3 separate regions of the Homo sapiens genome follow, and all the other regions are linked to region 1. The links come from fine-mapping of genetic effects on gene expression. A gene starts in region 1. Each other region holds a variant in brackets. All regions are shown on one strand. Distances are from middle to middle.

Region 1 (2,765 bases):
GGAATGGGCTAATGTCCGACACTAAAATGTCCGGGCGTGGTGGCACGCACCTGTAGTCTCAGCTACTTGCTAGGCTGAGGTGGGAGGATCAACTGAGCCCAGGAGGTGGAGATTGCAGTGAGCAGAGATCGTGCCATTGCACTCCTGCCTGGACGACAGAGTGAGACCCTATCTTAATAAAATAAAATATAGAGACTAGGTTTCGTTTCTATTTTTTATGAGACGGAGTCTCTCCCTGTTGCCCAGGCTGGAGTGCAATGGCGCGATCTCTGCTCACTGCAACCTCTGCCGCCCAGGTTCAGGCGATTCTCCTGCCTCAGCCTCCCGAGTAGCTGGGACTACAGGCGCCTGCCACCGTGCCCGGCTGTTTTGTATTTTTAGTAGAGACAGGGTTTCACCATCTTGGCCAGGCTGGTCTTGAACTCCTGACCTCGTGATCCACCCGCCTTGGGCTCCGAAAGTGCTGGGATTACAGGCGTGAGTCACCGCACCCGGCTTGTAAACTCTTAAATTTTGTATAGACACAATCATACAAGTTGTGGGAGTCAAAATGAAGGAAACGGGTGGTTACATGGTAGGTATATTTAATGCCATACATCTTAAGAAATTGGAGGTGGGAAAGGGAGCCCTGGAGAGGGAGACAAAGGAAATAGTTGAAAAGGAATGCAAACAAGAAAAGGAGGAATTGAAAGCTGAAGTGAAAACCAGGGACAAGAAAAGCTCCGCTCCTTCCTTCACTGCCCACTCGAATGAATGAATCCTGTTTGGTTTCCTGAATCTTCCTTCTGCTGGCCACTCCGCTTGGTCCATCACTTCTTTCAGCTTGCCCTTATCCTAAACAGCTTTCTTTAACCCAGTCATAATCTTAATTTCCTGTTCCTTCTCTCTCCCGTCCCACCCACAAAAAAGCCCTCCTCTTTGTCATTTTGGGGGATTTTTCACTTAAGATGTGAGCCGCGCGCTGCGGGTGCGGCGAGGCTGGCCCTATAAAAATGTTTCTGTTTCTGACATCCTCGTGCAGATACGCAGACGTCTCTACCTACAGGATCATGGGCTAGCGGGTGCTCAATCACAGCAGCCAGCGTTGGAAGGCGCCTTGCAAAGTATTAACAGCACTATCAAACTTTAATTGCGTAGTTCGGAACCAGATATGTGAGGAAACTGGGTTCTCCACGATCGGCCACCTCGCCCAATCTCACAGGATAGTTACAGGCTGAGTTCGGCAGCGGGACCCAGTTTCCTCCTGAGAGAGGTCCAGGTAAAGGTTTACGGTTGCCACAGGTCAGTCCTGACGAAAACCGCAAGCTGCGCCAAATCTCGCGCAGCGGGGCGGGAGGGCGGGTGGGGAATGTAAGGTATCGCGAGATGACAGGATTTTCCCGCGAAGGAGAAGCGCGCTTTTTTCCCTGGCGGGGGATTTGGCTAGAAGGCTGGGCCGGCAGCGGTTGTGAGGAGTTAGCTCGCGGCATTGCAGGCTCTGAGAGGAGGGGACCCGGTTCCCGGGTGAGTGTCCAGGCATGCCAGCGGAACGGCCCGCGGGCAGCGGCGGTGAGTGAGGAAAACCTTTTGGGCGCGGGTGGCAGCCTGCGGGGCTGAGGTGGGCAAGCATGGAGGCTGCGGCGGAGTTTCGGGGAGGGAGCCGACCCCGGGCAGGGACTGAGGAGGAAAGGAGGGTTGGGAAACTGCAACGGTGAGTGGAGGACACCCCGGAATCGCACGTATTAGCATGCCGGTGAAGATTTCACATAGGCAACTGCATTTTCCCGAGCATCCCGAGTTGTAAACTGTGGTCCAGGCGACTTGTAGACATTGTGAAGACTTACGGTGTCTTCTGAGAGGTGATGCTGGCGTCCCCTCGGTCTTCAGCTTTTGCTCCAGTGCATCTCGGGTGGGAGAAAGGCTGTTTCTTGTTGGAGTTGAGTAGTTGGTAATTTTTTTAAAACTGCAATTTGAAAGCTTTCTCCCCCGTCAGGCTCGGAGGCTCCAGCAATGGTTGAACAACTGGACACTGCTGTGATTACCCCGGCCATGCTAGAAGAGGAAGAACAGCTTGAAGCTGCTGGACTAGAGAGAGAGCGGAAGATGCTGGAAAAGGTAATTTAGGCATCAGGTTCGTCGTCGTGAAAGCCTGTGGTAACCTCGGCTTTAACCCGGAGGTGTGGTTTGTGTTCTTTGCTTTCCTATTTAGTGGGCTTTTTAATAACTGAAAGAAAACAGCTTTATTACTTGTCTTTTTTGTATGTTTACAGATATTGCCTTTGAGAATCCTTTCGCAAGTGCTTTGAATGGTGTGTTTCTATGAGATGTAGTCTTGGTAGTCCCATCACTTTTAAATGAGCATTTCAGATTGCTTGTTTAGCCATGAAAAGTCTTTCAAAGTCCATAGTGAGTTTTTTCGTTTGTCATCCTTATTTCCTTTAAAAATTACCTTAAATGTATGTCTCATGGCAAACAGGAATCGCTAAAACCTGCAGAAGTAATGTACTAGACTGAGGGCAGGAGAAGTTAGCATCAATCAAAGGCTGGGCTGGAATCCAAGTCTAATGATTTCCTTATACTGTAGTGCTGTTTTCCACCTAAGTGATCAACTTGCTGTTTGTTTTTCTTTTGGTTTCATGGCCTGTGTATTGCTACATAAGATTCTTTAGCTAAAAATGTGCCGTACTTTTTCAATGACAAGTTGCTGTAGTTTTCTTGTAGAGAGCATTTTGTAAGTTACTAAAAACAGTTTTTAACCTGAAAAATTCTTGTTTATTCTAAAGCCC
Region 2 (2,765 bases), 27 kb after region 1:
ACCCCAGGACTAGAGGTTTGTTGCCATGTGTGAATTTGTACTTAATCTACTCAGATTAAAAGAAAGAAAAGCTGGAAAATCACTGTATTTGATGAAATATCCCATTGTATAAGTGTTCCCAAATTAGCCTAGAATGTTATGAAATATTATGAGCCAGTAATGTCTATAGGCTTATTTCTGCCTGAAGGCTACTAGTTTTATCTTGAGAATCTCATCCTCATTTCCTGGCAAAATGAGCACAGAATAAATGCTTGTTGAATAAATAAATAAATGAACTTCATACATTATTAATTTGTTTTTGTTTTCTCAAACTACTAGGAAATTTTGTCTGTGGCTAAAAAAAATAAAAAGGAGAATGAGGTAAGAAATTTATAATGTAAGATTAAGTTTAGAAGTCATATTTACTCCTCAGTTACTAGTCCTTTTTCTTTAATCAGCAGTATACGTTCTTCTCACTATTATCCTGTTTCTTTGCTTTAAAAAAAAATACCTATGTATTCACTTCTTCCATATCCAACATTCTTCTTTTTTATGTATCAACTTTAGTTAGTTGTTTTATTGCATGATTCTTGATGTATAAATGTTAATTTATGGGTCTAGCAATGTTGCTTTTAACTTGTGAATCTGGCAGTGATACAAGTGCTCGTAACCATGTGGATATAAACCGTGAATCATCTTATGGAAGCTGTGAGGGATGCCTTAATCTTGCTTCAGACCTTAAAGATTTTTTAAGTTTCTTAAAAGTTCTGTTTGAGAAGGCTTGATTTCCGAGCCACCTCTTCACTTAGCCCATTTCATGTAGAGAGGTTCCTTGTTATCTGACTTTTTATTGTTCAAGTACTTAAAATTACAAGGTTGCCTAGGGAAGCAAAATAATCATGACATGAAAATATTCATGAATGGATATGAACTTCAGGTAGTTAATTTACATATTAAAGATTTTTAGGCCTTTGGGAAATTAATGTTATGTTTATAAAATGAGAGATAATCTATTTGGTCATATAATTTTGTCCAAAATTTATATTGTAAAAGTGTCTTGGTTTTTATTCTTTGTTAAGTTATTAAGGACTGGTTTATGGGTGCAGTTTAGTTGGATTTTTAAAGATTTAGTTAGATAAACATTTAGTTGGATTTTTAAGATAAAGTCTAGATGTAATCTTCTGTAATTTACTATGGGATTTTGGCTTCATTTTATAACTTACAGTCAGTAAGAAATAGTTGTTAAGTATGGTATTTTAATGAATTTCGACACTTGCATACACTTGTGTAACCACCATCCAAATCAAGGTATAGAACATTTCCATTGTAAAGGGATCTCTTCTATGTCTTTCCACCCCCAAACCCAGAGGAGGCCACTTTTTACACCTTTTATAGGATGGCTTATTATTTCCTTTCCACTCAACATGTCTGTGATACTCATTTATGTTGTTGAGCATATTAGTAAC[C/T]GGTTTCTTCTTATTGACTAGTATTCTGTTGAATGAATGTTACAATTTTCTCATCCATCCCCTTATTGATGGGCATTTGGGTTGTTTGCAGTTTGTGACTTTTATGAGTAAGGTTGCTATGATAATTTGCACACAAGTCCATGTGTAGACATGTTTTCATACTTTCTGCCTGTGTACCTGGGAATGGTATTGTTGTGTTACGTGGCAAATGTGTGTTCATAAGAAAGTACAGATTTTCCCCCCCAAAGTAAACACATCATTTTATTCTCTCGCCAGCAATGTTTGAAAACTCCAGCTTACATTATTGTCAGCATTTGATAGTCTTTTTAATTTCAGCCATTTTATTAGATGAGAAATGGTAACTTGTGTGGTTTTTAACTTGCATTTTCCTAATTACTACTGAAGTAGAGTATATTTTTATGTTCTTTGATAACTATGTTTTCTTTCTTTTTTTTTCTTTTTTGAGATGGAGTGTCACTCTGTCGCCCAGGCTGGAGTGCAATGGCACGATCTCGGCTCACTGTAAACTCTGCCTCCCAGGTTCAAGCGATTCTCCTGCCTCAGCCTCCCAAGTAGCTGGGACAACAGGCTCATGCCACCATGTTCAGCTAATTTTTGTATTTTTAGTAGAGACAGTGTGTCACCATTTTGGCCAGGATGGTTTTGATCACTTGACCTCATGATCTGCCTGCCTTGGCCTCCCAAAATGCTGGGATTACAGGCGTGAGCCACCATGCCCGGCCTGTATGTTTTCTTTTGTAAAGTATCTGTTAATATCTTTTGCCCGTCTTATTTATGCGTACTGTATTTTCTGTGTAACAGTTTAATAAATTATTGAGTATCACAATATTAGAAGTTTGGAAGAGAGATACAATTCTAATGATCTTTTCAAAAGTATGTGCCTGATTTTAATTTGTAAGGGTTATTCTCAGATTTTTATATTTTATTTTATTTTATTTTATTTTATTTTTTGAGATGGAGTCTTCTGTCACCCAGGCTGGAGTGCAGTGGCTGTGTTCATGGCTCACTGCAGCCTTGACTTCCTGGGTTTAAGTGATCCTCAGCCTCCCGAGTAGCTGGGATACAGGCAGTTGCGTGCAACCACACCCAGCTAATTTTTTGTATTTTTAGTAGACACAGGGTTTCGCCATGTTGTCCAGGGTTGTCTTGGATACCTGGACTCAGGTGATCCTCCTGCCTCAGCTTCCCAAAGTGCTGTGATTGTAGGATTAGCCACTGTGGCAGCCTGTTATTTTTTTTTTTAGTAGCTTTTCATTTGTAGAGGGATGGCGATGTCTCCAGTTTTTTAATCCAGGTGTG
Region 3 (2,765 bases), 190 kb before region 1:
TCACCATGTTAGCTGGGGTGGTCTCGATCTCCTGACCTCGTGATCTGCCTGCCTCGGCCTCCCAAAGTGCTGGGATTACAGGTGTGAGCCACCGTGCCTGGCCCACATGGTGTATAATTTTCTAAGGAGGACAGCAATAACCATTTACAGCAACTCACCAATTTTGACATGTCATTCATGAGAGGGACAATCAATACGATGATGTTGTTGTGAAAGTTAAAATGAGGTAGTGCCACCAACAGCTCACACAAGCTCTTCACAGCGACTTCTGCCAGTCCTTTGTATGCCTTTAAGGAAACTACATTACTTTTCTTCAGCTTCCTCTGCTTCCAATCTAATCAAAAGATAACTGTAGTTACTTTACTCATTGGTCAAAAGTTAAACTAATTGGCTTTCTTTTACAATCAATGTACATTTTAACACACATAAACACACACACACACATTCCCACACCCCTTAAAAAAAGACTTCATATGCTGGGCACAGTGGCTCACACCTGTAATCCCAGCACTTTGGGAGGCCAAGGTGGGCAGATCACGAGCTCAGGAGATTGAGACCATCTTGACCAACATGGTGAAACCCCATCTCTACTAACATAAAAAAAAAAAAATTAGCCAGGCATGGTGGGTGGCACACGCCTGTAGTCCCAGCTATTCAGGAGGCTGAGGCAGGGGAATCACTTGAACCTGGGAGGCAGAGGTTGCAGTGAGCTGTGACTGCACCACTGCATTCCAGCCTGGCGACAGAGCAAGACATCGTCTCAAAAAAAAAAAAAAAAAAGAAGAAGAAAAAAAGACTTCATAATGGTTCGATCTGCTCAGGAAAGGTCCAATATGGAGGCTACTAACTGCCACATATAGGAGTCAATTGAGCATTTGAAATGCAGCTAATACAAATTAAGATATACTCTAAGTATAAAATACACTCTAAGTATAAAATACAAACCAGATTTGAACTTAGTACTAAAAAAAACTGAGAATGTAAGACATTAATTTTTAAAATTTATTACATGTTGAAATGATAATCTGAATATATATAATATACTATTAAAATTAATTTCATTGCTTTTTAGTGTGTCTGCATTTTTTTTAAATGACATA[T/C]GTGGCTCATGTTATAGTTCTATCAGACAGAGATGGTTGCACAAAGATCCCAGGAGCTTTCCAAACAGTTCAGAAATTCAAAAACAAAAGAAAAACTCCCAGGCCCTCTCACTGGAAGAACAAACACTAATAGGGTGCCAGCTGGAACACCAGAACATAGAAGCAATATCCATACTACCCACCCCCACCCCACTATACTCCACTACCTTTATGCCCTTATTAGGCCAACAGGATTCAGTGGTCCTGTTCCAGCTGACAGCAATGGGTGATCTTAGTAAATAAGCTGGGTAAATGAGCCAATTAGGCCAAATGAAAACACCTGGCCTAGGCAACAACTGTCTTCCCTATTCCTACCCCTATTTTTTCTATGTCCTTCCTTTTCTGAAGAGTTTAAGAGTTTATCATCCCAAATAATTGACTCATAAATCCATTTTCAAGACATGCAAATATCCATTTCTAGTTATCCTTCTATTTATTTATTCATTTCTTTTGAGACAGGGTCTCACTCTATCGCCCAGACTACAGTGCAGTGGCATAATCATAGCTCACCGCAGGCTCAAACTTCTGGACTCAAGTGATCCTCTCAGCTCAGATCTCCAGTAGCTGGGGCTCTATAGGCATGGGCCATCATGCCTAATTTTTTTTTTTTTTTTTTAGAGACAGGAGTCTCACTACATTCCCCAGGCTGGTCTCAAACTCCTAGCTTCGAGCAATCCTCTTGCCTCGGCCTCCAAAAGCACTGGGGTTACAGGTGTGACCCACCACGCCTGGCCTCTAGTTATCCTTCTTCCCTGACTACCATGCCTCCAAATAAAAAACAGCAGAATAAATCCCAACTGTTCATAACAATGTATTTTGTTAAATGCATTGTAGTCAACAAAAATACAACTACTTACTAAAAACTGCAGCAATAATACTAATAATTGATAAAATATAGTGTATAGTACATGCTAGGCACTGTTTAAAGCACCTCATATCTACAAACTCAGTTACTTCTTACAATAATCCTGGAAGGTAAGTACTATAATTATTTCCATTTTTTAGACAGGAAAACTGAGACACAGAAAGACTATGTAATTTTCCCATCACATAGGTAGTAAGTGGTGGAGCCAGGATTTGACCCCTGGAAGTCTGACTCTAGATTCTGTTCCTGACCATACCTGCCTCTCACTACACAACACAGAACACTGTACAGAATTCACCTTCATGATCAAGGCTAAGTATGTTACAAACTTTGAAGATATGTTTAATATACCTTTAACCATTTGTTCCAGATTTTCCAAATAAAACTTGTATTGGCTAACCAGGCCTTCTTCAAATTCTCTTAACTTCTGGGTTTCTTTTCGGGTCTGAAAAGACCAAAAAGGTCAATCATTTTTTAAAATCAGAACATTAAAAGCCCAAAATTAGTATAAAATATGTGTGTCTAGTATACACCCAGTACTATTTAAAAAAACAAAAAACAAAAAACGCGGCAGTCGTTTAGGCCAGGCGTGGTGGCTCATGCCTGTAATCTCAGCACTTTGTGAGGCAGAGGCGGGTAGATCACCTGAGGTCAGGTGTTTGAGACCAGCCTGGCCAACGTGGGGAAACCCCGTCTCTACTAAAAGCACAAAAATTAGCTGGGCCTGGTGGCGCATGCCTGTGATCCCAGCTACTGAGGGG

What was found. PIP is the estimated chance that this variant, and not a neighbour inherited with it, causes the effect. A credible set is the group of variants that fine-mapping cannot tell apart.
Region 2: its variant is the best candidate, but not a certain one, in a credible set for the expression of HELLS in whole blood (INTERVAL, PIP 0.87).
Region 3: its variant is the best candidate, but not a certain one, in a credible set for the expression of HELLS in whole blood (TOPMed, PIP 0.57).

What each region holds. Positions count from the first base shown.
Region 1 is chr10:94,544,405-94,547,169 of GRCh38, forward strand. HELLS (helicase, lymphoid specific) reads left to right here and starts at 1,384. Exons shown (of 22, transcript NM_018063.5): 1 at 1,384-1,548; 2 at 1,973-2,094. The coding sequence starts at 1,518. RefSeq lists enhancers at 440-1,064, 478-527, 1,065-1,689, 1,690-2,313 and a silencer at 1,238-1,317.
Region 2 is chr10:94,571,070-94,573,834 of GRCh38, forward strand. HELLS (helicase, lymphoid specific) reads left to right here. Exons shown (of 22, transcript NM_018063.5): 7 at 319-360. Among named protein-coding and RNA genes, the nearest start is that of HELLS, 27 kb to the left of the region's middle. The variant C/T (reference allele first, on the strand shown) is at 1,446.
Region 3 is chr10:94,349,955-94,352,719 of GRCh38, forward strand. NOC3L (NOC3 like DNA replication regulator) reads right to left here. Exons shown (of 21, transcript NM_022451.11): 8 at 2,356-2,449; 9 at 159-334. Among named protein-coding and RNA genes, the nearest start is that of NOC3L, 12 kb to the right of the region's middle. The variant T/C (reference allele first, on the strand shown) is at 1,101.